Regions from separate parts of the Homo sapiens genome. Here all the other regions are reported to be linked to region 1. Evidence: microRNA targets listed by miRTarBase, many of them from high-throughput screens and not tested one by one. Region 1 holds a microRNA gene; each other region holds the end of a gene's coding sequence. Distances are from middle to middle.
The links. Region 1 holds the annotated microRNA hsa-miR-30c-2-3p (CUGGGAGAAGGCUGUUUACUCU, at 1,471-1,492, opposite strand). A microRNA usually pairs through its seed, bases 2 to 8, with sites in the 3' UTR of a target mRNA and lowers its output. Matches are read on the target gene's strand: a 7mer-m8 pairs with bases 2 to 8, a 7mer-A1 pairs with bases 2 to 7 and ends in A, and an 8mer does both.

Region 2: miRTarBase lists PIGR as a target of hsa-miR-30c-2-3p. Seed matches in the 3' UTR shown: 7mer-A1 at 2,592-2,598 and 7mer-A1 at 2,458-2,464.
Region 3: miRTarBase lists TRIM66 as a target of hsa-miR-30c-2-3p. Seed matches in the 3' UTR shown: 7mer-A1 at 2,582-2,588 and 7mer-A1 at 141-147.
Region 4: the mRNA of DNTTIP2 is a reported target of hsa-miR-30c-2-3p. Seed matches in the 3' UTR shown: 7mer-m8 at 2,776-2,782, 7mer-A1 at 3,348-3,354, 7mer-A1 at 3,491-3,497, 7mer-A1 at 3,819-3,825 and 7mer-A1 at 3,955-3,961.
Region 5: miRTarBase lists PTPRE as a target of hsa-miR-30c-2-3p. Seed matches in the 3' UTR shown: 7mer-m8 at 1,772-1,778.
Region 6: the mRNA of PTP4A1 is a reported target of hsa-miR-30c-2-3p. Seed matches in the 3' UTR shown: 7mer-m8 at 2,915-2,921.

Annotation. Positions count from the first base shown.
Region 1 is chr6:71,375,494-71,380,426 of GRCh38, forward strand. It overlaps MIR30C2 (microRNA 30c-2), which reads right to left and starts at 1,538; the gene lies at 1,467-1,538.
Region 2 is chr1:206,926,847-206,931,779 of GRCh38, forward strand. PIGR (polymeric immunoglobulin receptor) reads right to left here. Exons shown (of 11, transcript NM_002644.4): 9 at 4,825-4,933; 10 at 4,651-4,709; 11 at 1,676-3,567. The coding sequence ends at 3,472. Among named protein-coding and RNA genes, the nearest start is that of FCMR, 7.4 kb to the left of the region's middle. RefSeq lists enhancers at 2,756-2,805, 3,276-3,565, 3,492-3,992, 3,616-4,185.
Region 3 is chr11:8,613,954-8,618,886 of GRCh38, forward strand. TRIM66 (tripartite motif containing 66) reads right to left here. Exons shown (of 25, transcript NM_001388022.1): 24 at 4,797-4,933; 25 at 1-4,050. The coding sequence ends at 3,991. Among named protein-coding and RNA genes, the nearest start is that of STK33, 22 kb to the left of the region's middle.
Region 4 is chr1:93,865,928-93,870,860 of GRCh38, reverse strand. It overlaps DNTTIP2 (deoxynucleotidyltransferase terminal interacting protein 2), which reads left to right. Exons shown (of 7, transcript NM_014597.5): 6 at 69-178; 7 at 917-4,577. The coding sequence ends at 1,010. Among named protein-coding and RNA genes, the nearest start is that of DNTTIP2, 11 kb to the left of the region's middle.
Region 5 is chr10:128,081,944-128,086,876 of GRCh38, forward strand. PTPRE (protein tyrosine phosphatase receptor type E) reads left to right here. Exons shown (of 21, transcript NM_006504.6): 21 at 889-3,912. The coding sequence ends at 963. Among named protein-coding and RNA genes, the nearest start is that of AS-PTPRE, 22 kb to the left of the region's middle.
Region 6 is chr6:63,578,678-63,583,603 of GRCh38, reverse strand. PTP4A1 (protein tyrosine phosphatase 4A1) reads right to left here. Exons shown (of 6, transcript NM_003463.5): 4 at 4,576-4,706; 5 at 4,273-4,347; 6 at 16-3,547. The coding sequence ends at 3,430. It overlaps LOC128125822, which reads right to left. Exons shown (of 2, transcript NM_001415059.2): 2 at 16-4,926. Among named protein-coding and RNA genes, the nearest start is that of PTP4A1, 8.7 kb to the right of the region's middle.

The sequences.
Region 1 (4,933 bases):
AAGTTCACATAGTAGATGCTCAATAAATAATTCTTGAATGATGAATGAATTTCAGCATGTATTTCAATAAGCTTTGAAACACCTACATTCATGACTAAAAGTTAACCATAAATTTAGATCTGGAATATTTGAATGTCCCCCCTTTTAATTTAGGCAGAATAATAAAATGCTATGGCAAAGCATATGCATCATTCTCTGCTGCTTAGAGTTGCTTTTCCCCTTACCCATATTATCTGCCTCTCCTAGCAGAAAGCAAAATTTCAAACATCTATAACAATTATTTCTTTGAGAAGACTGTAGAGCATTGTTTCAAAGAGGGTTTTCTTAAGCCTGTAGGCAAACCTAAAAAGGTAAATGACTCAATCAAGCTGGCACTTCAACAGTGTCTACCACTGCTTCAAGGCCAGCCTGTTCAAATACTTCCCTGAAATCACATGCTAAAGTCATTGTATTTAAACTTTTTTTCTATAAACTCATATGAAACAATTACTCCTATTGTATTAGGCTCTACAGTCAGTGCGGAGGTAAAATTAAAAGCTCCTCTAATACTTCTAAAGTAGTAGAGTGTCTTTTAGTTTAAATGACTGATATATGCTGATATGCCAAGACTAGAGTAATTTTGTTCAGATTTGTTTAATTTTTAATAGAAGCATTAAGTTAATTATTTAACTTCTTAAGGGCTTGTTATATAAAAATATGCCTTATTTAAATATTCTCTTTAACAAGAAGGCTTATTTCATAATAATTTTAAATAAATCAGCAATGGACTCAAATTTCAGGTAAGTTACATTCTAGATTAGATGTTTAATAGACCTTTGATTTAAACGATTTACATGAAAGAGTTTTTCTGGTTAAGGCTGAACTTATGAGTTCGTTCTGTAGATTTTTCTTAAAATTAACTTCTTGCATCCCATCCCTTACCTCTACATTTTCCTTCCTCTCCCGTCCTCCAACAACAATTCTATTTTTTCCTGAAATGTGTAACTATATTCTAGCTTTAAAGAGCAGACCTTATTGTTTGCCATTACAATTCCTAAAGCATGGGGCTCCAAGGTGCCTTTGATCCCTGATAAAATAGCAAGTCCAAGGACACTAGAATTTTTGCTTCAAGAAAAGCAGACTTCAGTGTGGAATGCTCTCAGGTTAAAGGAGAAATGTTTAGCTTAACGTATAGGTAATGTGTTGCTTTTACAGATCAGACTGCAGCAACCCACAAAATGTAGCCTCATACAAGTTAACCAGAACTTTTGTCACTTGGGTATTTGGTAATCTTTTTTTTCTTTTTAAACTAAGTGAAACAGTTCAAATATAACTGATATTATAGATTATCTTACATTTCTTTGGATGACTTAGTCAATTCACCTTTTTTCCTTTTACAGTTGACCTCAGAAACAAACACGGGATAGGATCAATTCTAAGACATAGAAATATTCAAAATCCATTTCTCTTTAGTTGACTTCCAAGGCAGAAAGAGTAAACAGCCTTCTCCCAGCTTTCTTACTTTCCACAGCTGAGAGTGTAGGATGTTTACAGTATCTGTCGCTCAGTGCTCTCTAGGATGGGGTTGGCAGTCAGCAGCACAAGCCTCAGGAAACCCAGTACCATTTGAAGATACCATAATATGTCACAGGAAAAGATCAGAAAAGTATACTTGGGACTAAATTATGGCTCTTTTAGGAGTAGGGTTGGAAGGGTGGGTGGGGAGGCTATATGACACTTACTTAGTGCTGCCTGCTCAGTTCTTGTTTTCTTCCTGTTTTGCACATCCTAAGATATTCCTAAGGTCTCTAGCTTTGAGCTTGCACACTCACGGATTTGGTTAATTTTGGATTTTCAATATTCTATGCTTTCCCAAAAGGGTTTCAAAATATTCGCCAAACTCCTTCCTTAAACAGTACATAATCCCTTTCTGACTGTTGGGAGACATGAAATGCAGCTTCTCACTCTCTGGGCTATACAACTTTGTTTCAGCTCACTCCTGCACAGAACTGAGAATAATGGCTAAACAGAAGACCAACAGTTTAATTACTGAAAATTAGTTACCTTAATGATGGGATACACAGTAATAAATTTAATCAAATGAGCAAAAAGTAAATATGTTAGAATACAACTTTACATGCATAAAAATGGTATATTGCAAATTGCTAATATAATGCTAAAATTATTTTAAAAATTCATATTCGGACAGAAGTGAACCTACAATTAGAGGCATACACATGAATGGAGTCAGTTGCTTCCTAAAGTTATTTTCTAAGAATGACTTATTCAAATAGTTCTTGGACTTCATTTGCTAAACTGGTCTAAGGTACACAAAATACTTGGGCGAAGAAGAAAGTCATCATTACTATACATCTCAGAACAAACCTACCTGATAAGAGACTACACTGTAAACCCAGGTGGCATATAATTCCAAACTGTTACAGGATCTTACTCATTTCATTCATTCATTCATTCATTCAACAAACAATTGTGACTGCCTGCCATATATCAGCAATGTTTTAAATTCTAGGTGATGAGAAATGAAGGGTATCATCCCTACCTTCGAGAAGGACACAGCTTAATTTGCAAGACAGACACATACACCATTACTATAAGTGTTATGATGGGTCAAAAGACACTTCTGAGTTGGCTAATAGCCAGGCTGAGTCTTGAAGCCTGAATAAAATTAGCTAGGTGAAGATGGTGCTAATGGGAATTTGGAAGGGGTGGGCAGTGAAGAAGATAGTGTAGCTTAAAGTGTACCAGAAAGAACAGTCATCCAATAGAGAAAGAAAGACAAAGGTAATGTATGCTGAGGCCTTTAAGAATTCAGCAGAGGTGGAGTCAAAGATGCATGTGGGTGAAGGGTAAGGGGAGAGACACAAGGGAAAGATGGGAGTCCTTATGTGCCAGGTTAAAGGGTTTGGGCATTATCTCCAAACGATGGGTACGAGTGAAAGATAGTAAGCAGGCAAGTGGGATGACCATGTCAGTACTTTAGAGAATTTACTCTAGCTTTAAGGTGGCAGGTAAGGAAAACAGGAAAAGAATCACTGCAGTAGTGTAAGGGAGAGCATGGGAGCCTTAATTAGGGAAGAGGCAGTAAGAACACAGAGAAAATGAATATGAGAAATTATAAAGACAAGAAGAACAGCAGAATTCAGTGAGTGAGTAGCTGAGGGGAGAGGCACTGTGGAGATGGAGAAGTCATGGGTAATTCACAAGCCTGGCTTGGGCTTCATAAGGCCTTTCATGCAGGAGGGAAAGAATAGGAAGAGAAGTGGAGAAGGAAAGAGCCCTAAGAATGATAACTTGAATGGGCTGGGCTGCAAAGTTATGACCCCATGCTCATTGAATACTGAATTCTGTCACAACTGAAAGGGTGAAAACACTTGAAGAACTAAATCACACAAACCTGTTCTTTATTCTGTTTCTGCACTTCTGCTTACTCTTCTACCTGGCAAGTGCCCATACAGTCTTCAAATCCCAAATCAAGTATTCTCTCTTGTGAATCCTCTCTGGTCAGCGTCATCCCTAACACCCACACCCCTCCCCCAACCTGAGGAGGAATTGTTCATTTTTCCTTTTACCACCATTATACTGTGCCTAGGTCACATAATTGCATATGCCTAGATCACAGAACTGATACTTTATTACAATTATTTGTTTACCTATCCATCTCTCTACTAGGGAAGAAACACCATGTTTCGTTTAACTTAACTTCATTTCATCAGAAGAAATTCACAACATGTATCCAGGGTTTGTCTGGTACTAAAGGAGGTTCTCAGTGAAGGTTTGATGAATGAATGAATGAATGAATGAATGATGCCATCTACCACCTGACAATGGGTTAACAATGTTAAGATGATTATTCAGGTTTTAAAAATCTCTAAATAAAAAATATTTACCAGTTTCTAAAACTTTGTTTTTATTCCCCCAAAATTCAAGGTTAGGCTGTTTTACTTTTCTAAGGAACTCATAGCTAAGAAGAGAAAGCAATCTCTCCTTAAATGATGGCATTAACTCCTGGAAAGTTAACCTTTTATGAAGGCAGCCTTATTTTAAAATTTTATTTTCATGATGGATTTCAAGTGAAGAAAAACCAGGATACACAGTAAATGCAGAGAAGAAATCTATGTAAACAGTTTAAAAATAGACAAGAATGAAAGAAAATGGTCATAAAATGTGGGTATCAATACTGAATAATTATGTAAGAGCTTAAAATGTTCTACATGGAAAGAACCACACCTTATTAAATAGTCACTAAAATAATTTTAGCTACATGAAATGATTTTAACTTCTTAAAGTCAAGTCTGAAAAGTTCCTTTTGTAACGTGAAAGCCACTCTCTTTTGCTTCAGTAGGGCTTCTGATGTAATAGGCATTTTAGTCACATAAAACTAATCTCCAATAAACTAGCCTTTGGTCATTTTTAGTTCTGAATGAAAATACATTTATTTCAAATGTAGATTATATTTGATCAAATCTGTCACATTCTGTATCAAAAAACCTTATCCATTGATTTAAAAATATTCTGCAGTATTACACATCAACTTTCAGGATACACAGTGGCTTTTCCCAACTCCCAATGTTCATTTTTTAAATTAAAATGTAGCAACTTTACAGTATGTAAAGTTTTTAATTTAAAAACTTACATTTTTAAAATTAAAATGTAGCAGCTTTACAGCCATGAATGATTCACTGGAGAAAAAACACTGTTCCCAGATTTAAAGCTTAATGTATCTTGTATACAAGGATGTTCTACAGCTCATGCCCTGCCCAGTAATGGGCTTTACTCCTTTTTTTTTTTTGTTCGAGATGGAATCTCGCTCTGTCGCCCAGGCTGGAGTGCAGTGGGGCAATCTCGGCTCACTGCAAGCTCCGCCTCCCGGGTTCACGCCATTCTCCTGCCTCAGCCTCCCGAGTAGCTGGGACTACAGACGCCTGCCAACACG
Region 2 (4,933 bases), not on the chromosome of region 1:
TGCTATAAACAAGTTCCTGGCTGGGTGCAGTGGCTCACGCCTGTCGTCCCCATGCTTTGGGAGGCAGAGGCAGAAGGATTGCTTGAGGCCAGGAGTTCCAGACCAGCCTGGGCAACAAACAAGACCCTGTCTCTACCAAAAAAAAAAAAAAAAAAAAAAAAAAAAAAAAAAAAAAAAAATTCCTAACCACTGTTTGGCCTTAATAATGCCCAGCAGTGGTTGAGCATTAATAATAGTTGGGCCTTCATAATAGTCCTGTTGGGCCTTAATAATAGTCCTGTCTTTACATATTGGACTTTTAAAAAAGAATAAACATTAAGATAATTCAAGAACTTGGGAAAGATTTCCTTGTCATCAAATGTTTAAACAGTTCCTTGAATGCTCGGGGCCACTGACCGTTGCTAATTGGTTTATCATCATCAATCCTGCAGTTTATGGTCACTCCCCTATACTAAGCTGAATCATATCCTCTCCAAACTCACGTCCACTGGAACCTATGAACTAGCTTCCTTATTTAAAAGGGTTTCTTGTGCTACACGGGGAGCAGATGGACTTTGAGCCTTACTGACAATATCACTTAGGAATAATATAAGATCGCTTTTGGCTTTAGTGACATTTCTTGACCTTTGCTTCAAAGGGCTGGGATAGGCTACACGAGTTCAGGACTGGCTCGCTGGTTATTGCAATGCGTACAGAAGTTGCATCTTAATCCTCTACCATAAACATGGCCCTTTGGTGAGTCAGAGAACAGCTTCCTGGAAGGGTAAGACAGTGGTAGTTTCTGACACACCTGTCATTTTGATCCTCCTGGAACGATTTGCTGTCATTCCAGAAGGTATGCATCCCCATCACAGAAGAAAGAAAAAAACATTTCTGATGCCCCCTCTTCTGGCTGGATAGAAGCCCAAGACTCTGACCCAGGTCAGGGCCTGGGAACTGAGACTGGAGTACTGCAGTTAGTGGGGCTGGAGGGAACACCAAAGGAGGCCTGAAGTCTGAGTCCCAGGAAAAGGTAGGCTTGGGAAGCTCATAGCATCCACAGCATTATGTTTAAGGCCTGGGTGGAAGCAAAGGTTCACATCAGGCAGGATGGCAGACTGGGGAGAACTCTCTTGCAGAGAGAACTCTCCACACACAGAAGCCCTGTGGAAGAGTCTAGGGGTGAGATGGGGGGCTAGCTGCCAACAGACAGCTTGGGCAGCCCTTAGAGGATATGACATGGTTCAGCACCAGAACCTAGGAATGATCTTAACAGACAAGGGGGTCCCAGGGTGCCTAAAATTGGGACCAAAGCAAAAGGCAGCCAGATGCAGTGGCTCACATCTGTGATCCCAGCACTCTGGGAGGCAGAGGTGGGAGGATCAGTTGAGCCCAGGAATTCAACACCTGCATAGGCAACATGGCGAAATTCTGTCTCTACAAAAAAATACAAAAAGTTAGCCAGTGTGGTGGTGGACGCCTGTAGTCCAAGCTACTCTGGAGGCTGAGGTGGAAGGATCACTTGAAACCAGGAGGTTGAGGCTGCAGTGAGCCATGATTGCACCACTGCACTCCAGCCTGGGCAACAGAGTGCCCTGTCTTAAAAAAAAAAAAGGAAAAGAAAAAGAAAAGAAAAGCTCTGAAGAGGCTGTCTGGGAGACAGAAGGTATTGGGTGCAAATACAGTCTGAGCCTCGTTGGTGGCAATCACAGTCTTTAATCATTAATTGTCATATTTCTGATTTGTTAGCAAGTGCCAGCTTGTAGGCTGGTTGAAGTACAGAACTCAGAGGAAAAAAGAAATTAAATTTTAGCTTTCTGGAGAGCAGCCCCTCTCTGGCACCATCAAACACTTCTTTGTTTCCCTTCAACTTGGAACTCTTCAAACATCAGGGGTTGTGAGGGTTTGGCCATTCTTTTATCTTGGGTCCATGTGAGTGACAGAAATGGTGCGGCCTGGGAAAGATCTCCCTCCTTTACATTTTCTCTTCTCCCTCCTCCTCCTTATTCTAAAACTGTGCCTCCAACAGAGGGGCAGGGGCTCTTGTAGAGAGATCCCTGGCCCAGGACAGGAGATGCCAAATCTAATTTATCTCACTGAGGGCCTTTGAGAAAAACGCTTCAGGGCCAGGCTCAGTGGCTCATGCCTATATAATCCCAGTACTTTGAGAAGCTGAGGCGGCAGATCACTTGAGGCCAGGAGTTCGAGACCAGTCTCGTCAACATGGCGAAACCCTGTCTCTACAAAAAAAAAAAAAAAAAAAAAAAATTAGCCAGACATGGTGGCCCACATCTGTAGTCCCAGCTACTTGAGAGGCTGAGGCATGAGAATAGCTTGAACCTGGAAGGCAGAGGTTTCAGTGAGCCGAGATTGTGTCACTGCATTCCAGTCTGGGTGACACAGTGAGACTTTGTCTCAAAAAAAAGAAAAGAAAAAAAGAGGCCGGACGCGGTGGCTCACGCCTGTAATCCCAGCACTTTGGGAGGCAGAGGCAGGCGGATCACGAGGTCAGGAGATCGAGACCATCCTGGCTAACACGGTGAAACCCTGTCTCTACTAAAAATACAAAAAATTAGCCAGGCGTGCTGGCAGGCGCCTGTAGTCCCAGCTACTTGGGAGGGTGAGGCAGGAGAATGGTGTCAACCTGGGAGGCGGAGGTTGCAGTGAGCCGAGATTGCGCCACTGCACTCCAGCCTGGGCGACAGTGAGAGACTCCGTCTCAAAAAAAAAAAAGAAAAAGAAAAACGCTTCACTCTTCCAAACCTCAATTTTCTTATGTGTGAAATGGTAAGAATGTGGGTTTATAATTACCTGTGTGTATGCTCATCATACATGACCCCTAAGGCCTTAGGACTCGAGACATTTTATGACCTCTCCCAATAGGGGCAGAGGTGAGCACCCCTGGTGAAAAGTTAAGACTCAGTGAGTATAAATACGCCAAGAAGAGCTGTGGCTTCTTTCACTGGTGTCCTCAGAAAGGCTGTGAGCAGTGTTGGTGGCATACCTGTCACAGCATCTAGCAAAGCACCTGAATTCTAGTATGAATTCAAATACATCTTTTGATGGAAGGAAAGAAGAAGAGGGGAAGGACGGGAGGGAGGGATGGAGTGGAGGGAAAAATTCTGTTGACATCCCATGATAAGGGTGCAGAGGGGCGCTGCACGTCTCTCCTTTCTGCAATCAGCTCTCCCACCCTGGTCCCTCTTCCTTCAAGGGACCCATGAGGACCTCTATTCTTCTCCGTACCTGAGGTTCTCTCAACAGAAAGAAGTTGCAAGTGGGACCTCCTCATGCCACCCTCATCCCCAATAGGAACAATTAGGCCAGGCTTTGATGTCACTGAGGAGGGGACCAGCACGCCTCTGAGGACAGTAGGAAAAACCTAGGCAGGTGTTAGAGCAGGGAGTGGGGTCCCCAGGAGCTGAGGGCCCCAGGATCGACATGATTCTGAAGGTGATTGTCATGGGTGCAGGGAGCAGGCGGCGACACCGTCTAGGCTTCCTGGGGGCCGTCCTGGGCCTCGGCGGCCACGGTGCTGGACTGGAGCAGGAAGTCTTTGTAGGCCATCTCGGCTTCCTCCTTGGATGACTAAGGGGCAAGAGGAGAGGCATCAGTGTTGGGGGCACTGGCTCAGTGGGTGGAGTCAGGGGAGGGGAGGTGCTTAATGTCCTGAATTCGTGATCTTGGTCCAAGCAACACAAGCCTTTGGGGCCCACTGTTCTCATCCCAGCCCCCATGCTCACCAAGAAGGACGCATTTTGAGAAATGGAAAGTTGCAGCCTCTAAAAATATCTTCTTCTGTCTCACTACCTCCTTCTGACACACGGAGTGGAACCGCCTCTGTTGCCCGGGCCTGTCCCCGGAAGCTGCCCACACAGTCCACGGGCAAGGTGGCCTAGGCTGGGGTCAACCACGGTGGTGTATGTTTTTCTTTCTCCACCAGCCCAGACAGGTAGCTTTTTGGCACCACAAAGTTAAAGGGGAAGGCTGTCCCAGGAATAACTCGTTCTAACTTTGCTAAATGCCAGAGATGTTTCAAGAAAAAGTAGATATGATAAAAACAACAACAACAACAACAAAAACTCTCACCTCGGGATTAAAGGCATGAGATGTTATTTTTCTTGGTCCCCTGAGTCCTAGGGCAGATTGAGGGGATGGTATATGGCACCCAAGGCAGGAGTTGCCTCTGGTGGGGCTTCAAGAGAAGTGAGCAGGGGCTTCTAGCCTCAAACTGCCCACCGCAAGCAAATGTCTCCTAGGCCCAGGCAAAAAGCTGGTCCTGAGCAAACCCTCAAGGGAGGATGTGTGGCCTGAGGTCCTTGGGTCCCCCAACCCAGGAAGAGCATCCATTTAATCACCAGCATTTGGCATTGTAGCTTCCCATCTTTTATGCACCTGCTTTCCTCATCTCCTGGCCTGCCTCTCTCCTGCAGTTTTACAGCCTAATCATATAGCTCACCTCCTTCCTGGGCCTTATCCACATCAGCATCCCACAACCAGTAAGATATAGTTCTTCCTCAAAAAGTCCTGAGGACTCCTGAGGACTATTTATATCATCCTCCCTATTCTGGGATCGGCCCCCATGTTGAGGTAGTTCTTTCTGAAGTCTAACTGCATCCCCTCATGCTGCATTTCTTTGTCATGTAGTGGGGCTTCCTTCTTCCTCCTCACCCTTTTTGCCTTCTTGGGTTCTTTGGTCTCTGTGGTGCTCTCAGTGGTGGCAACAAACTCTGTGTGAAGAAAGAGGGTAGGTTAGCCCTTACTAGCCTCCTTTTCCCAACCCAGATGTGAGACCAATTCTTACTCTCCCCAGGGGCTGAGCATTCCCTTGAGTGAGGGTCATACCTTCTTTTCCTCCGAGGGATGTCTCCTGAGTGATCGAAGAGGCTCCCATGTTGTCATTGGCTCCAAATTCCCTGGAGTTCTCGAAGTCTGACATGCTAATGTCTGTCCT
Region 3 (4,933 bases), not on the chromosome of region 1:
TGTGAATCTGTCATGCATAGCAGCCCAGGAGGTGGAAGCAGCAAATATGATGATGCCGAAAATGGAGAATGGCTGATAGTTTCAGCAAAATTGAAGGGGATACGCCTGGCGCAGTGGCTCACGCCTGTAATCCCAGCACTTTGGGAGGCCAAGGGAAGCAGACTGCTTGAGCCCAGGAGTGTTGATACCAGCTTGAGCAACATGGCGAAACTCCATCTCTACCTAAAGTAGAAAAATTAGCCAGGCATGGTGGCATGCACCTGTAGTCCCAGCTACTCAGGAGGCTGAGATGGGAGGATCACCTGAGCCCAGAAGGCAGAGGTTGCAATGAGCCGACATCATACCACTGCACTCCAGCCTGCATGACAGAGTGAGACTCTCTCTCTCAAAAAATAAAAAATAAATAAATAAATAAATAAATAAAGTTGAAGGGCATGAGAAAGTTCAGGATGCTGACAAAAACATCAGTGTGTGATAGGCTCTGGGTTCATGCTGGGGAGAGGAAGAAGTCCAGGAGAAAGTTAAAAGACAAGGAGAGGAGAGAGAGGGCTGAGGTCATGGAAATGGACTAAAGGAGCAGGGCAATTTTAGCAGTACTGAGGGATGGAGAAGAAGCCCAGGAAGGGGTGATCCAGAAGGAGCAAAGGCTCAATTCTGGCGTTCAGAAAGGAAGACTATAAGTGACTCCATGGAGTGAGAGAGGGAGCAGAACAGAGCCCAGGAACAAACAAGGAGGCGCCTCCGTCTTAGCAGCCAGGCAAGGAGCTGTTGCTAGAAATGGGTACAGGGAGGGAGCCAGAGTCCGCTGGTGGGGGATGGCAGGGACTGCCATGGAACAGAGCATATGGAAGGTATGGTTGCCACTCAGGTAGGGGTCCTAGAGGCAGGCAAGGTGTATAGTTAGCAATTGCTAGAAGTCAGGCAGGGCTAACCTAACCATGTTCTGTGGAAGAGTGCTCTGCAAGTTCATCCTGAACCAATTTTTTTTTTTTTGAGACGGAGTCTCGTTCTGTTGCCCAGGCTGGAATGCAATGGCATGATCTCAGCTCACTGCAACCTCCACCTCCCGGATTCAAGCAATTCTCCTGCCTCAGCCTCCCAAGTAGCTGGGATTACAGGCATGTGCCATCACACCTGGCTGATATTTGTATTTTTAGTAGAGACAGGGTTTCACTATGTTGGCCAGGCTGGTCTCGAACTGCTGTCCTTAGGTGATCCACCCACCTCAGCCTCCCAAAGTGCTGGGATTACAGGCGTGAGCCACCGCGCCCAGCCAAAAAATAAAATAAAATTTAAAAATCCTGAACCAATTTTTAACTAAAATCCCCTTGCATCAACTGAAGCCATTTTACTGTCTTATTTCTCAGCATACCCAAGAAGTCAATTTTTCCTCTAGGGCTGCATGCTGTCCCATAAGAATCTAGAACTCACCGTATTTCCACTGCATGATGTTGTCAAGGACAAAAGGACTTGGCTGACTTCAAAACTGGGCCATTATGGGAATAAGTCAAAAGCAGGATCAGCCCAAATGTTAATGAAGAGCCTCTGCAGGCAGTCACTTGGCTAGTAGGATTTTTTTTTTTTTAATTTCTAAGTCATGTTCTGGTTTTTGCATGCAAAAACAAAACAAAACCATGATTCAAAACACTGGTGGCTAGGTCTAAAGGAAAAGCCAGCGAGAGGCAGGTGTGTAAAGGGAGCCTCTCAGCATGCAGGCTCTCTACGATGAGAAGGGAGCATGTGTCTCTCTAGCACATTACTAAGACCCCCTCTGGCCCAGCAAGCTGATCCGTGAGCCCAGGAGGCCACACCCAAGCTGGGAGCCTCACTCATATAAGGAAAGCCAAGCTTTTAACAGGTATTTCTGCTTTAAATTTGTGGTCTCCAATTGCTCCTGAGGAAGGATCAGGTCTGAGCCTGTCACAACACTCACCAGTTGCCCAACACCAAGTACAACAAAGTTCACAGGATGGTGGGAATGTGGGCTGCACAAAGGAAAGATGACCTAGAGCAGGAATTAGTGACATGAGAACAGAGGGTACTTTGCCAAGCCAACTGAACAGAGAAGGAGATTCAAAAATTGAAAGGGAAATGACCAGACCCCAAACCAGAAAGTCATGTGAGTCTCAAAGGGCAGAAGCCTAAGTCCAAAGATTGCCGGACTAGTAAAGCATTCAAGACTCAGTTACCCCAAACTAGAAAACGGGATCACGGAAGCCCATCTGCTTAGAACGTGGCATGTGCTGCTGAAAGAATGGCAAGCCAAGGGGCATGGTTTGCTTTAAAGTGAAGATGATCTCTCAGGTTGGGTAGAGAAGGAAATGAGCAATACCATCAACTCACAAAGAGAGAAGAAATGTTTTCTAATTAAAAAACTGCTCATTAGCAAAGGCCCTACAAACAAGAACATCCTTGAACTTCATCTGTTAGCAAAAATAAAGCCATGACCTCAGACTCCCCTGAAATTAGCCATGCAATGACAGGACCAGGGAGAGCTGTCTCAGTCCTGGCCACTGACATGTCAGGTTCATAGCTCCCCCAACAATATGAGCAATGGGTTCCTTCTCAACCAAGCCCTTGCTTGGGAGGTAGCCTGACCTCCAGTATCCTCACAAACACCCTGCGAGGGCCATGCAGATGCATTCAGGATGCAGCCTCGAGCTCCTGTTCCCATGGCTTCCAGAATGCTTCTCTCTGCATTCTAGGAGAACTAAGGCTCTGAGGTTGCTTCATGGTCACCAAAGGACACTGGCTTTTTGCCTCTTGATTTTTCCCCCTGTCCACCTTAGACAAACTTCCCCCAGGAATGTCTAGATCTGGCCCCTGTTGGTCCCTGAGGCCTTCTCTAACCTCCAACAAAAAGGGCTGCCAGAAAAGTGTTGGCTTTTTTGGGGCTGTAGACAGCCTGGAGGCGGGCTGGTCAGAAGACTCACTTCTGATCTTTGGCTCATGAACTTGGAGAGGTTGAGAACTAGAATCTTTAAGCAGGAGGAGAGGCCCAGAGGAGTGAGCTGGTTGTGGGTTACTCTCTCCACCCATGGAACTCTGGACCTGAAGCAGACAGCAGCTGTCTCACAGTATTCACAAGCAGAACTCACGATCCATACCTCTGAATGAGGATGATGAAGGGTATGGCCACTGACAAGCACCAACAGTCACTTCTAGGAAGGCAGGTTCTCACCCTAAAGAAGTGTGATTAGCCCAGAGTAAGTAGCACAGAGGGCGGGCTCTGAAGTGGACATCTTACTAAGTCTGTAAGTGAAATCTGAACCAGAAGATTTAAGTGGTCTCTCCACAGCCACCCAGCTCAGTCAAGAATGTCACACCATCCACAGCATTTTCACAGCAGCCACCTATGTCAACATCAGGAAAGTGACTATGCAAAACAAATACCCTGAAAACCGTTAGAACCCAAATAGGCACAAATTGAGACCTATGGCCTCTAGAAGCCTCCACTAGTCTGCACATGGCAGGTGCCTCTATCCAGACAGGACAAGCAAAGGCAAACAGTGACAGTCTTTGGCTGTGCTGGGCCAGGGATCACAGTCCTGCCATATGTCTAAACCTCTCTCCCTTCTTTTACCCACTTCTGAGCCCAGGAGGAGTTCAGATGTATACATGGCTCCTGAGCCCTGGACACTAAAAGGTTAGACGGGTCTGCTTTCCCAGGCAGAAAAAAATTCACCAAGGAAAGTAGGTTTTCCCGAGCCTAACCAGGTGTGGTCTTGTCAAGTGGAGCCTATACATCTGATTACTCTGGTAATAATAAATACCTTCCTCTTTCCTGTTTATTACTGAAATCTTCTCTGTAGTGGATGTACTACGGCTCCCAAATAAATGCTGTAGATGCAAATGGCAAAGAAGAGCACTACACAGTTCAACAAGACTCATCTACCATCCACACTCTGAAGAGGATAAGCTGCAAGATGGGGAGGAATGGTCGACAGTATGGGACAACAGCTGCCAGAGTGCCCAGTCTCCTTTTGGCTCTCACACCTGAGAGATGCTGTTGGCCAGGCGAAATGACATTCTTTTTGCTCTTTCATTCTCCTGAAAGAAAAATATATATTTGGAATTAAAATAGCCAAATGTAGGATTTATTAACATGAAAAGGCTATGTCAAGATTGCAGTTCTGCCAAGTCAACGTATTTTATTCTACCCTAGGAATGCAGCAGTAAAACTTACTGAAGCCACTAAACATTGTATGCTAAGTATGGTAAACAACTGGGGATGGCTGGCCAGACCCTGGCACACAGTAGGCAGGCAAAATATTTCAGTGGAATTAAACAGCCCTGAATGGACATTTCTGGTCTACACAGGTGGGACCAGCCCAAAGATCAGAGGAGCTCTCTCTGCTGCAAGCAATACCTCTCCTTCCTTACCTACACCAAGGGGCTAAGAAAGATCCCTTCCTTTCTCTCTCAAACCCAAATAGAAACCAGGCACTAAGACCAGGTAATTCCCTTCTTAGGGGCATCACAATCACAGTGTGGAGTAACCAGCACCAAACTGGGAATCAGGACAACTGGTTTCTCAGCCCAGGTCTGCTGCTAAATGCTGGGTTACCCTGGGCAGGGACAGGCACCTTTCTGAGTTTCAAGTCTCGTGAGTAACTGGCATTGATGGGCCCTGTACTGCCCTGCCTTCCCTGGGGGCTAAGGGGCTGGAAGTGAGGGTTCGTTGTCACCACCATCTTTTTGCACCACCCGAACAGCTTCACCTTAGGTTCTGCTTGGGTGCCCCTCTGCTTGCCTGATCACCGCCCACCTGCTGCTGGCTGGCAGTAACTCTTTACCATATGTCGTCGCCGCCTCTTGGGTTGGATGCCCTCCTGCATGTAGGGAGGCCACGGGAAGCCCTGGGGAGTGGAACATCCACTCTCACTAGACACCTCCTCGGAGTCTGAGTCCTCCTGCCTTGGCTGGGCAAACC
Region 4 (4,933 bases), not on the chromosome of region 1:
GAGCTACACTGAAGTATGAAAGCATCTTGGCACTCAATGCATGACTTATTTCAATCAATTGTTCACAGATTGGAACCATTGTTGACAATCCAGCTGATTTCTACCATTCACGAATTCCCAAGAAGCAAAGGAAAAGAACTATTGTGGAAGAACTGCTGGCTGATTCTGAATTCAGAAGGTAAAGGAATTCATATTTATTTTATAATATGTATACTTTGCTTTAAAAATGTATAAACTTATAAATTTTCAAATAATTTAAAAATAACTCATTTATAATAACCCATAACATATTAACATGAATATATATTTTTATGAAAAATAATTTAGTGCAAATCTCTTTAATGTCTGGCTTAACTAAAGACAGAGGCTCATACCTGCTTCTGCAGATAACATACATCACGTAGCCCCTGGAAAACACTACACTCATGAGAGAACGAGGGTGAAAAAAGCGATTAATGCCTTAGTATTCTTGAGAAAATAGTTTTTACCTAATGAATCCCTTGAAAGGGTCTACTCCACAGACCACACTTTGAAAACCATTGGTCGCTTCTAAGAAATATATATATCATACTGTGCATTTTCAGGATAAGTGTGACTTTTTGTTTTGCTTAGTCCTGATTTTTGTGTTTTTATCCCTCAAAAATGTTTAAAGCATTTGATACAGCCTGGTGGATGGATATAGTGCATATATAGATCATATATGGATATATGGATAGATAGATGGATATAGTGCATATAGTAGGAAAGTCTTCCTACTACAGTTGCCATTTTTTCTCCCTAGATTGCAAGCAAGTGCTATGAGGTCAGAGACTATACTTGTCTTGTCCACCACTCCATTCCCAACTTTTACCCTAAGGTTATATTAACTTCTAATGTCTGATATATCAAACATAAAGTTCTGATTTTTCTTTTTCAGATACAACCGAAGGAAGTACTCAGAGATCATGGCTGAAAAAGCAGCAAATGCAGCAGGAAAAAAGTTCCGAAAGAAGAAGAAATTTCGCAATTAAGATTTACCAAGCAAACTGCAACATTTTACATTGCTCCTTTATTTACTTATTAAAGACGTTTGGAAAACTAACACCATCATCTAAATTAATTTACCATAGACTGGCCCTGTTCATACAGGAATTTGTATTTGGAAAAAGTTGATTTGAGAATCGATTACATGCCCTTAGAAAATAGGGGTGTCTAAAAGACCCACCCTGGTGTAGACTCTTTATGGGAAAAAAGGAAAAAAAATCTCAACCATTTTAAGATAACTGATGGTTTGTAAAGTTTTCAATGCTTAGTTATTTAAAGAAAATTTAATTAAAAGATAGGAAGTATAAAGTTTGCTAACATGTTCAAAGAACTTTAAAAAATGATCAAAGATATATAAACATTATTGTAATTAATAGGTAGTTTTATGTGTGTATGTGTGTGTGTGTCTGTGTAGGGGACGGGAGATGGTAGAGAGGCAATGCCCTATAGTTAGCTATAAAATTCAGATCCAGAAAGTTGGGATACAAAGATATGAAGAATATGACCTAGAAAGCTTGGGCAGAGGAGCTGTTTTCCTTGCTTGGCAACTGAAACAGGGAGGAATAATTGGTTTTTATCTAGATTTAAGTGTTGTGGTCCAAGTAAAACAGGATTAAACTATAATTTAAGTTGGCCAGGGTTTCTTCGAAGTTAACCCAGCTTACCTCTTCTCCAGTGGTACAGTATGCACCCTGGCTAAGCTGGTTTCTGGCACCCAAGGAGTGTTGGTCATTTCTGTTGATACTTGGTGAGTTGTAGCTTCCTTTATGTTACTATTCACTTTACCTCTATTTTTCCAGCATACTGCTTCCTTGAGATATCAGCAAATATGAAATCTTTTTTTTTTTTAATAATAGTTTTGGGGTACATGTGTAGAACATGCAGGTTACATAGGTATACACGTGCCATGGTGGTTTGCTGCACCCATCAACCTATCTACATTAGGTATTTCTCCTAGTGCTATCCCTCCCCTAGTCCCCCACCCACAACAGGCCCCAGTGTGTGATGTTCCCCTCCCTGTGTCCATGTGTTCTCATTGTTTACCTCCCACTTACGAGTAAGAACATGCAGTGTTTGGTTTTCTGTTCTTGTGTTAGTTTTCTGTTCTTGCTGAGATGATTTCCAGCTTCAGCCATGTCCCTGCAAAGGACATGAACTCATGCTTTTTTATGGCCACATAGTATTCCATGGTGTATATGTGCCACATTTTCTTTATCCAGTCTATCATTCATGGGCATTTGGGTTGGTTCCAAGTCTTTTCTATTGTGAACAGTGCCACAGTAAACATACTTGTGTATGTGTCTTTATAGTAGAATGATTTATAATCCTTTGGGTATATACCCAGTAATGGGATTGCTGGGTCAAATGGTATTTCTGGTCCTAGATCCTTGCGGAATCACCACACTGTCTTCCACAATGGTTGAACTAGTTTACACTCCCACCAACAGTGTAAAAGTGTTCCTAGTTCTCCATATCCTCTCCAGCATCTGTTGTTTCCTGACTTTTTAATGATTGCCATTCTAACTGGCAATGAGATGGTATCTCATTGTGGTTTTGATTTGCATTTCTCTAATGAGCAGTGATAATGAGCGTTTTTTCATGTTTGTTGGCTGCATAAATGTCTTCTTTTGAGAAGTGTCTGTTCATATCCTTCACCCACTTTTTGATGGGGTTTTTTCTTGTAAATTTGTTTAAGTTCTTTGTAGATTCTGGATATTAGCCCTTTGTCAGATGGATAGATTACAGAAATTTTCTCCCATTCTGTAGATTGCCTGTGCACTCTGATAATAGTTTCTTTTGCTGTGCAGAAACTCTTTAGTTTAATTAGATCCCACTTGTCAATTTTGCCTTTTGTTGCCATTGCTTTTGGTGTTTTAGTCATGCAGTCTGCCCATACCTATGTCCAAAATCTCATATTTACTGCTTGGAGTCAAAAGCTAGTAATAGCAGAACTGACAATAACATTCATAGTTGGAGTTAGGGAAGCATCTATGTCTGTTCTCTTTTATTTTAAAAAAAAACTACTTTTGTTTCTGGAATACTATGTTTTGCCTTCTACTGGATAAAATAAGGACCCAGTATGAGAGAATTGTATCCTTTAGTGCTTCTGGCCTTCTACAAATACCTGGATATTTAAATAATGGATGAAGTTATGTTTTGCTTTTTAATAAGCAAGTCTTTTGAGAAACAGGTTTTACTGACTTTGGCCTGTGTCACTAAACTCAGTTCACCTACTGGAACTTTTTTTTTTTTTTTTGAGACGTCTCACTCCATCACCCAGGTTGGAGTGCAGTGGTGCCATCTCAGCTCACTGCAACCTCCGCCTCCCAAGTTCAAGCGATTATCATACCTCAGCCTGCCAAGTAGCTGGGACTACTGGGCATGCCATTATGCCCAGCTAACTTTTGTATTTTTAGTAGAGATGGGGTTTTGCCATCCTTACCTCAAGTGATCCACCCGCCTCGGCCTCCCAAAGTGCTGGGATTACAGGTGTGAGCCACCATGCCCAGCCAACTGGAACTATTTGAAGGCTTTATACCAGAAAAGTATAAAGAATCCAAAGGGCTGCCACAGTCAGGTGTGCTGGTGAAAGAGACCTTCAAGATACCCCTGAGAAGATCTTGAAAGATTTCGAAAAGAATGCTGTATTTATACACCATCTGGCTCCAAGATGCTTTTTTTTTTTTTTTTTTTGAGAGACGGACTCTCGCTCTGTCGCCCAGGCTGGAGTGTAGTGGCATGATCTTGGTTCACTGCAACCTCCGCCTCCCGGGTTCAAGCAATTCTGCCTCAGCCTCCCAAGTACCTGGGATTAACAGGCACCCACCACCACACCCGGCTAATTTTTGTATTTTTAGTAGAGACGGGGTTTCACCATGTTGGCCAGGCTGGTCTTGAACTTCTGACCTCAGGTGATCCACCGGCCTCAGCCTCCCAAAGTGCTGGGATTACAGGCAGGAGCCACCACGTCTGGCCCAAAATGTTCTTAAAACAAAGTAGATGCTGTAAGACTACAGTTGATAAAGTTGGGCTCTGGGCTAGGTTCTTAGCATCCAACACAATCAGTTCTGTGTTCAGTGTTCTGCTGTATGATAAACCAACTGCTCTAGAGAAACACCAATATTCCTCTTCTGAAACCTGGGAAAATGTCTTTTTTGGGTCCCATAACTAGATGTCACAAAAGGAGTGGGGAGTGGGGAGGCTATATAAAAAAGTTCAACAAAACCTTAGTAACTGGTATACATTAATAGGATCCCATTCTTAGAAACAGCAAGTTAAAGAAAATACCATAATGGGAAAAAAAAGTTAACATTTCTGAGAGATGTACCAGGTATTCAGTCTCTCAGGCAGTGACAACTTGTTCAGAATAATTACCTACAATAGATCCCAAACCATTGAAAAATGCCTAATTGTTTACTTAATGGAATTTGTACTTACTATTTAATTAGATGAATATCTTTATTGAAAGTTTTCAGTAAGGGTTGCAACAAAAAGGGCTTTCTAATTAACCAATTCCCCAAGCATCTGTCTAATTAAAATGTAAAGTGCAATTATTCTCATTGTCACATAGTTTTTGAAGTGAAGAAAAATCTTCCAAGAAGTAGGATCAATACCATGACCTATAATTAAATGTCATAAGCGGATCAGTGTTCTATCACTGGAGAAATGAGACATCTCCAATGAACTATGAAATGTAAAATTAGGTAAGTTTGTGCATAGAGGATTTCTAGGAGGACATACAAGACATACCTTCAAATCAAGATGGCCCTGTAGTTCCTCAAGCTCAATTTTATCAATTCCAGTTACCCTCATTTCCAGTTCACTTTAGCGAATCACTATCATGGCCTTAGACTCGTTGTTTGAGAATTCAGTGGTCAAGATTCTTAACTCAGACTACCCCAATTTGTAT
Region 5 (4,933 bases), not on the chromosome of region 1:
TGTGTTGGAAAGAAGCAGGGAGGTGCTGAGGACAGCTCTTGGCCTCTCCGGCTTTCCAAGCCCCTGTCCCGGCCCCAAACTCACATATCCCACCCAGGGGTCTGGGAGGACCAGCCTATATATAAAACAATGTCCCTTTTGTACAGTAAATGTAGGCTTTAAAATAATCTAGATATGCATTTTATTTAACTTTTATAGATCGCTTTATGAAATTTATCTGGCAATGTTAGTACTCTGATTTTTTTCTCTTTCTTTTTTTTTTTTTTTTTTTTTTTTTTTTGAGACAGGGTCTCACTCTGTCACCTAGGCTGGAGTGCAGTGGTGCAGTGGCACAATCTTGGCTCACTGCAATCTGCCTCCTGGGCTCAAGGAATCCTCCTGTCTCCGCTTCCCAAGTAGCTGGGACTATGGGTGTGCACCACTATGCCCAGCTAATTTTTGTATCTTTTTTGATAGAGATGGGGTTTCACCATGTTGCCCAGGCTGGTCTGGAACTCCTGGGCTCAAGTGATCCTCCTGCCTCAGCCTCTCAAAGTGCTCTTATTACAGACGTTGAGCCATTGCACCTGGCCTGGTTTTTTGTTTTTTTTTTTAAATTCAAAAATAGTTGTTTTCCAGTTTCAATGTGAAAGCCACAGACATTTAACTCAGCCCATTAAATACACTAAGTTGAAATGTTAATACACTAACTGACACATTCTACGTAGAAAAACAGCTTTATTTGGAATTCTGCATGTGCCTAAAAACTAAATTACGATGTGCATAAAGGTATATGGTATTTTAATGAATAGTCACACTTATTTATGTCTTGTTTTTGAGTATTTCTCCTGATTAATCAAATATATTTTTGGGAATATCATTTTAATGTGTCCTTGTTTGTCTTTTCAGGAACAGTATGAATTCTGCTACAAAGTGGTACAAGATTTTATTGATATATTTTCTGATTATGCTAATTTCAAATGAAGATTCCTGCCTTAAAATATTTTTTAATTTAATGGTCAGTATATTTTGTAAAAATCATGTTAATTTATTTCATAGTTGACATTAATATCTTCCCTAATTTCTTTGTATATATTTTGTTATGCCTTAAAGGCCACCTGCTATACAGTTGTTAAATCTTAAATATGCTTTTTAAAAATTGGAATAATGTATTAAGGTCAAATAATATCCCATAAAATATATATTTCTGCTAATATTAGTAAATATCTTAATTTTTCATTAGATTCATATCATTTAATTTCACATATTCAACACCTTTAAATGTTGTAATCTTAATATGCGAAGTGTGCCTCTGCAAGATACTAACACAAAGCTCATGTTAAGAAAACAGTTGAGGACTCAGAAGTCAGTTCGAAAATGCACTTTCCTAACAGTGAATTCACAACCCTGAACAGCAGCATTTTTGGAAGGCAAACTGTTCGTGATGGTACAATGTAAATGGGGACTTCTGTAAAGTTCTCAGTTTCGGTCCATGTGGTTTATCTTTACATTTTAAAGATCAAAGAAGTCTTTACAACCTGAATCCAGGTCTAAAACACACTAGAGTAGCTGGTGACTATAAATAATATTTTAAAATGCTGTGTCTACACCATCAAGACTGTGTCTACACTATCTTGGCTGAACGAGAAGAGATGTAAATGCTGGGTGGTCCCGTTGACCCACGGCGTTGGGTACAACAAAACCAGCCATCGGAGTTACACCCCAAAGCACCATTTGCTGTCCAGCTGCCTGTCGTTTGGCCCAGACCACCCTCAGAAAAAAACCAGCTGCCTCTCCCATTCTCCCCTCCCGTTCTGCCACAGCGGCCTGGGCTGGTCCAGTGCTATGCCTGGAGGCTCAACACAAAACTTCCCATCCAAACATTCAGATGAACTGAGCGTCTTACACACGCAGTACAGAGGAGCACACATTAGGATAGAAACAGTAGAATAACCACGGGCAATTAAACTTTAAATTTTCTGAGCAGCATTTTGGTATTTAAACATTTCTTGTAAAAAGCTGAGACAGTTTGTAAGAAAAGAATCCTTAAAATCTAGATTTATACCATTTTTTAAAGTCCCACCTTTCAATGTTTAATAAAACAAAAAGAGAAATCCTTAATCTAAAAGCTAAATTATTTTTGAATGGAAATACTACTGAGACCATTGACACTGGATAACAGTAATGATCCCATTACCAGATAAGATTGACTGACGGGGAAAAAAAAAAAAAAAGAATGGGGTGTGAATGTACCAACACTGAATCTTACAGCAGTTATCTTTCTATGGCCATTAGGTACCTAGCAGATGTGCACAATATAAACAAAAAGATATCTGGCCTACCTTACTACTAAAAGCATTTAACACGTGCATTTTTGGTACTTTTTTTTTTGTTTTCTAAAAGCTACATAAAGGCCTTATTTGACATTTTCACTGATAACTGATCGCACCCTCATGTTGCAGTGTTCGTCCCCTATTCATTAACAGTGTGTGCAAATGCAACCCCAGGACACATTATTGTTCTGATAGATGCTCACAGGGAATCAAGCTTCTCGCCCACTCCACGGCTCTGAGCCCCATCCAAGGGCAAGACTTGGTGCCCAGCTGGAAGGACGAAAGCACACTTTGTGACCGCCATCCTCACCAGCTGCATGCCTGGGCTGCACACTGCTGAACGTGCTCCTCTCTCCTTCTCTGTACAATGATTCAGCATCTCGGCGGAAGAGGAAAATGGAGCTTTTTGAGGCTCGCCAGGTCCCTTTTGTTTTCACCATTAAAATTCCAAACCCAAAGCCTTTGTTTGACTGAAGGAGAAGAGAGGGAAGTAAGCTTCTGTTCAGCACCTGAACCCTAGAAAAAGAGCCAGTTTGCTACGATGAAGGTGACATTTCTCTGGTCATTTATTTGAGAGTTCGAAGTCAAAGTCGAGGGGCACCGGCTTTGGTTCATGTCTAGGAGCCCTCTGTCAGAATCCTTGAAGCCCTTTAATGGTCTAACTGGCATCTCTTGTATCAAGAAGTACCTTTAAGGTAGACCTTTTCAGGGTGCCCTCAGGAAAGGGCCCTGCTCATGTTTTTTTCCTGTCCCCTTAGACCAACCCCAGGTGTCCACTGCAGGGGTTCTGCCTGTTCCCAAACTTTTTCCATTCCAGGAACAAAGGAGAAGCCACTTTCCCCAGGACGCAAGACTCTCCCCTCCACTGTCCGGGACAGCGTTCGCCCTTTAGCGGGGAGGTCATTACAGCCTCATGGCCTCTACCAAGGCCCCAGATCACAGGATCTCCTGGGCCTTGGAGCACCTCACGCTGGGGGAATCAATCCCTGAGGGACTCAGAATCTTCTCCGTGCAACCTGGAAAGTTCATCTCTTGTTTCCTTCAGTCAAAGAAAGTCCATTGTACATAACAAAACAGCCCCCAAACAGCCCAGTGCCGACACCATTGTTCCTTTCACACTTTCCTTTGTTGCATGCAGTTGGGTTCAAATGCCAAATAGTGATTAGAAGACGACCATTCTGATCTGTGTGTGATCTGGTCACTATGTGACTGCCTTTACGGTTTCTCTCCATGTGCTATATGAATGAAGAATGCATACCAGTGTTTTAAAAGGTATTTTTATGTGTTTTTAAACACTTTTTTAAATGAGCCTGACACCTGTGTTTCAGCATTTGGAGACATCCCCATGTTATTCTTTTAAGTGTATAATTACTGATACTTTTTTGTTTGTTTGTTTAACTAAGTTGTGTTTAACTTATGTGCAGTCTTTATAATGTATGTATGTTATTACAGTTTCAACTATCATATTTTCTTTGATTACATTTATAATTTGATCTTGCTCTGATTATAATGCCAGTGAATGTTGCTGAACTCTTTGTATATGCAAATTGCAAGATTTAAACCATTCTGATGCAAGGATAAACCTTTACTTTGACTACCAGCCTGTGTTTTTGTCTTTAAATCTCTTAATTTCATTCCTCTGCAAAAAAAAAAAAAAAAAAAAAAATCGCCTGCTGTGAGATGGTGTTTGCTGTTGTGGGCCCTTTTGTTACCAGTTTCTCTCTATGGGTCTGTGGGTCCCAATGTTCCATCCTAGACAAGCAGCATCCACTCTGCTGTGGATGTGGTCTTGGCCCTTCCCCTGGGGTAAGCAGACCTGGATACATGAAGGTGCAGGCACAGCTGGACACAGTGGGGAGGGGCAGAGGGATCCAAGGAAAAGGAGGTATGGAAGAGGCATAAAGGAAGTCACCAACTGGGCCTCCACCAGGGGCCAATGAACCCAAATAGCCCTGCCTGAGCCCAACGCCTCTGAAGGAGCTGAGGTCTGCAAAAGTACGCTTGCCAGACCAGCCTCAAAGGCAGCTACTATCAACAGAAATACACAGATAGGACGCTGAGTGCTGAGGGACCTCAGGAGAGACAGACAGGTAGCCAGGGGCACCGATTAGTGTGTGTGTCTGAGCAAGCCACTCAGAGGAGCATTACTGAGACCACACTGGGAACTCTACTCTGCAGAGATGTGCGAGGGGCCTCCCCACATCTTCTGCATGAAGGAGCAGGATGCTGCAGCACTGACCCACAGCTCTCGCCCACCAGGTGGAAAGTTTGTTCCAGGGCTGTCAGCTCCCTGGCACATGCATGTCCCACGTGTGGGCCTACTGTTGCCAAAATCAGAGGAACACCCAGGGACAGTGGCGCACAACATCAAGGCATCTGCTGTGGTCACCAAGCTCCCAAGCTTGGCCTCTAACAGCTTGCATATTGGGCGTGGCAGCTGTGTGTCAGTCGGGAGCAATGTTCATCCCTGGGGGCCCTCAGGCCATCTGCTGGTTTGCTGGGAGGGCAGCTTCAGGGCCCAAGACAGCCATGCCCCAGCCAGGGCTCACATTGCCACTTCCACATTCAGTGCCCACAGCTGGTCTCCCACTTGGCCCAGGGTCTAACAGAGCCAACTGCCC
Region 6 (4,926 bases), 7.8 Mb from region 1:
AAATAAAATCATTAATAAATGGTAGCTATCAATTTATTAACTGGTTACTGCGGCAATATATATAATTATAAAATCACCATCAATCCTTTCATTCATACGTTAACACATATCACTGGTTTAATTCATTGAAGGCAAATACAAGTTTTTCCCTTACTTTCCTTCCAAGATTCCACTTAGGCTGGTTACCCCAAACGTAATGGAGAAACATTAAATGTCACTTTTAAACCACTTTTAAACCAGTCTTTAATTTTCAATTCAGGTGTGAGGCACATATATACACACAAACATATTAATTTAAGGAAGCAAGAATGTAGAATATTAACATGTATGGCAGACACTACTTCATGTATTTTGTTTAAAACTTAACTTTGAAATAACTTCATTGTTTACATGTAAAAGAAAAATATCATTCACTTATACTTCCACTTCCCTTTAAAGTATTCTCAAATTATATTTCCTGAAACTCCAATAGAAAGCATTCTCTCTTAATCATGGCAACGGGTCGGGTACTCATTGGTGACCAAAATCTGGTGACACCATCTTTTATGTTCTTTGCCATATTCTTAAATGCCTGGCAAACAGTAGATATTTACCAGATGAATATGACATTAAAAAAATAAATTTCAAGAGATTGAGATTCTTTAGCCAAGTTGAGGGACTACATCATTTTGAAGCACTCTAGAAGGGGGATGTGATTAAATGTGACTGCATGCCTGGGCTGGCTGCTTCTAGGTATAGAGCTGTGTTAAGGCGTGGGAATAGGAGAGCAATGCCCTAGGGAAAAGAGGGCACTAGGGGAAACAATGGTTGCAGTGCACTGCAGAATGACCAATGGCACCTACTTCCAGAGTTTTCCTTCAACTAAAAAGAGATGGCATTTTCTTATGATTCAGTAACCGCATTACTTACATCAACATTATGGTTGCTATAGACAAGCCTAGGTAGCTAGCCTCTATTTACATCATCCCACTAAGGGTATCCAAACCCAAGTAACCAAATTTTAGAACACTATCAGATAGTTTCCTGCATTCAAGACTTCAACTCATAACTCTTTGAACTCTTATTAGATATAAGGAATCTAAGATGTATTATAGGCATTCCTATAATTAGCCATATTTACAAGATACAAAATATTTGGATAAAAAGCAAATTTCATCACATCGTATAATGTACAGATAAGGTTTATAAAGTAAATTAATTTATTTTTAGCACCATATATACAATCCAAACACTGCAAATTAATTTCTTTTCAAACTCAAAAGATAGTTTTCATTAATCATGATGGCACATCCTCTCTCTCAATAAACGCAAATGCTGTTTTATGGGCTGTGTGGTAATAGTTTAACATTTAGTAATTGATTATATAAAATTATGTTCTCAAGACTAGGCTGCATTTCCTTTAAAAAAAAAACAAAACCTCAGGTTAAAAATTAGCCAAAAATTTGTGATTACTATCACAAATAATCCAAGATTTAAATAACCAAGGGCCTCCAGAGGCCCCTGTTCTTCCTTTTGCCCTGTCTAAAATCCAATGAAATATATTAAGTGTTAAACTGGTATGAAGAGGTGGAACTAAATTCTTTGAAACACAAGGTGGAGTATCACTTTTTACTTAAACTTTGAGTCCTTTACATTTATAACTGCTATTCAAAAAAAATTAGACAAAGACATCTAGATTTAGATTAACGTGATCAAAGGGATTATTGTGGATCATTAAAGGAAACTTAACATTAAGCCTTCATGTACCAAATACTAATATTTAAATTAATTTCAAAATCTATAAAGGTATGTAATTATTAATTTGCAAAGGAGAAAACTGAGGCTCAGAAGTTGCACAAAACCATGAACTAGTGGAACTGAGCTTTACAAACCAAGGCTGTCCTCTACTATACATTATTTCTCCTCAGTACACAATAATAAATTGGTTCAAAATTATCTAGACCTTTAAAAAGTATATAATGGAAAGTGCTTTTAGTATTAAAGTTTTCATGAATGACCCTAACAAATTTTGTCTAAAAGTTTACTAAAATGCTGACATCATTTATAATCCTTCATTTATTTGTAAAAAGATGAGGACACACATTAAGTGAAGTGCAATTCATTTTGTCTTCTACAAAATAAGTTAATTTTAAGCAAACCAATCTCAATGATGATAAATGCATGTCATTATTTATTTAGATGTTTCAGCTCTCGCACTAAGTTTTTACAAGCTGGTGAACACTGACAAAATTATTTCTCCCACAGAACTATAACCACACATCCCCAGACAGTATAAATATATGGTTGAACTAACATTAATACACATCACCATTTTATCAATTACATAATAAAACAAATTGTCAAGTATCCAAATATTAAGTTACACAGCTCAAAAGGCATATAAAATATTAGATGTCTGCTCAATTCATTAGCAGAAACCCATTTCTTTTTTTGCAAGAGAGGTTGGGAAGGAAAAAAAAAATCACACTTTCAAACAAAAATAAGTTGGTAAACACACTTCTGATAAGTATGGGAAAAAAATTACAAGAATTTCAGGAAGTTTATGATTACAATAACAAAGCATCTCTACCTTTTAAAAAAATATTTTACTAAATTAAAGAGCATATTCTACATGTTTGCACAAGACAAAGGCAACATTTTGCTAAAAATAATTAATAGCCCCCTCCCATTCTTTTCTCAGGCCCTCCCTGTTAAGTTGCACCTCAGAGTGCAAACATTAAATTAATGTAAGGCTTTTTTGTCTGAAGACATTAAAGACATGTGCTTCTGTACAACGTAGATTTTCAAAATGGAGGTTTTTTTAATACAGCACAAAGTGAGATACATGGAAACACGTAAAATAATCACTGTAAGACTTGGTAAAAAAAAAAAAAAATCAATGGTTAAGCAAACCTGACGTATATTGGTATGAATGTGGGAGATGTAAACATAAAGTGAGCAGGCAAATAACCATGTAGGCCCTACTTTCAATGTTTGAAATGATTGAAGGAATAAACCACATAAGGTCTAGTGTTCATAGTTCCTGGGATTTTACTTCTGTATGGTACTAAAAATATACAAGTATTGTGCTGGGTATTTTGGCACCTAATCTTCCTAAATTTCTTATGTATTGATAAGATTCTGGCATGGGAATAGATTTAACAAGTCATAACTCAATACTGCATGATTTGGGGAAAGGTCAATTGATACAAATGACAAGCACATTTTATATGCTGACAGCAAGAATCTTTTGCCAAGTATCCAAATAGGTTGACTGTAACCCAAATACAGAGGTTGCCAAATCTGTCTAGCTTGAGGCCTGGTAAAACTGCCTTTCAATACTCCTATGGAAGCTTCATTAGACTTACTAAGCCAACATGTTGGCTAATATGTATAACAAATTAGGCCCTATCTCAAGTTCCACTTCCAGTAGCATTAGGCACCCCAATTTTATTGAATGCAACAGTTGTTTCTATGACCGTTGGAATCTTTGAAACGCAGCCGCATTTTAGGACGATACTTCTCCAAATACAGAAGTTGCTTGCTGTTAAAAGCTCCACGCCGCTTTCTGGGAGGAAAAAAAAAAAAAAATGAAACAAGGCAAAAGCCCCCTACAGTAATATTTAGTGTCTTATAGACAACCATCACCTCTCTTGTGGCAATTTATCTTTTGATTAATTAGGCTGTGACCTGATGCAGAAAGGAATATGAACAGGCACATCAGTGTAAATGGAAAAAATCATAAAAAGTTAATTTTCTTTATATCTTCGTTTGAGTATTGGTTACAACAGTCGACTCACAAATCCATTTACACGTAAGTCCACGAAAAGACAAAACTAATTTATAGTGAAGTCAGAAGTTGCCTCTGGTAGCAGGGAAGATGACTACAAAAGCCACAAAGGCATGTTCTACAGCACTCAAAATATTCTATGTGTTGTATTGGATGGTTAATTTGGCTGTTATTGTCAACTGGTCTCCTTTGGAGACCTGTGCATTTTATTGTATCTTTAAATGTATCTTAATTATACCTCAATAAAAATACAAAATAACCAACATATTCAATCAAGTATTTAAAGCAAAACAATAATTCAAAAACTCTTGTTGGATTAGAATCTTAGTAATATGAGCAACTGCATGAAATGCAAAAAAGAATGTAAGATCTTGATTTCCTGGTTTTAATACTATCTCAAAAAATAATCATAATGATTAAATGGGCTATTAGACTATTAAACTCACTGACACTCAACAAGGAAATGAAAGAGAGTACAAATGAAAAGAGAATCCATTACTTACTGTCTTATGAATTGTACTGCATCTTCGTATTTCATTCCACCTTCAATTAATGCTAGGGCAACAAGTACTGGAGCTCTGGTGAGGTAAGAATTTTGATAAATAGTTTTTTCAAAATCAGATCTTTGTAAATTTATTTCTCCAAACATTCCCCAACTCAGAAGTATTATCTACCACCCTTCCTATTTAAGTAATACCTATGACAAATGTTGACTTTATATTAAAAAATTATAAGAATTTTTCAAGTTTCTGTATTTTCATTATCAATAGATTTTTACCTAGAATCAAATTGATAAATTCATTTACCTCCCAAGGCCTGCAACGCAATGAACAGCAATACAACAACCAGGTTCTTCACGAAACTTAATTTTCACAAGACTTAACCAGTCATCAACAATCTGGTTGGATGGTGGTGCACCATCATCAAAAGGCCAATCCTAAGTCAGAAGAATATTTAAACATTTTAGATCATTAATATAAACACTGTAGTAATAATTCTAAATTTCTAACATGGAAATGTTTTCAAAAGCATTCTCATTTTAATGTTTAATCAAATCTTATTAAACCCTGTTGTCTACCAAATGTGACTAAATGCTCAATCTTTACAAAAATGTTTCACAACTTCAAATCCTTGCTTAGCTTTTCACCTTTATTTAG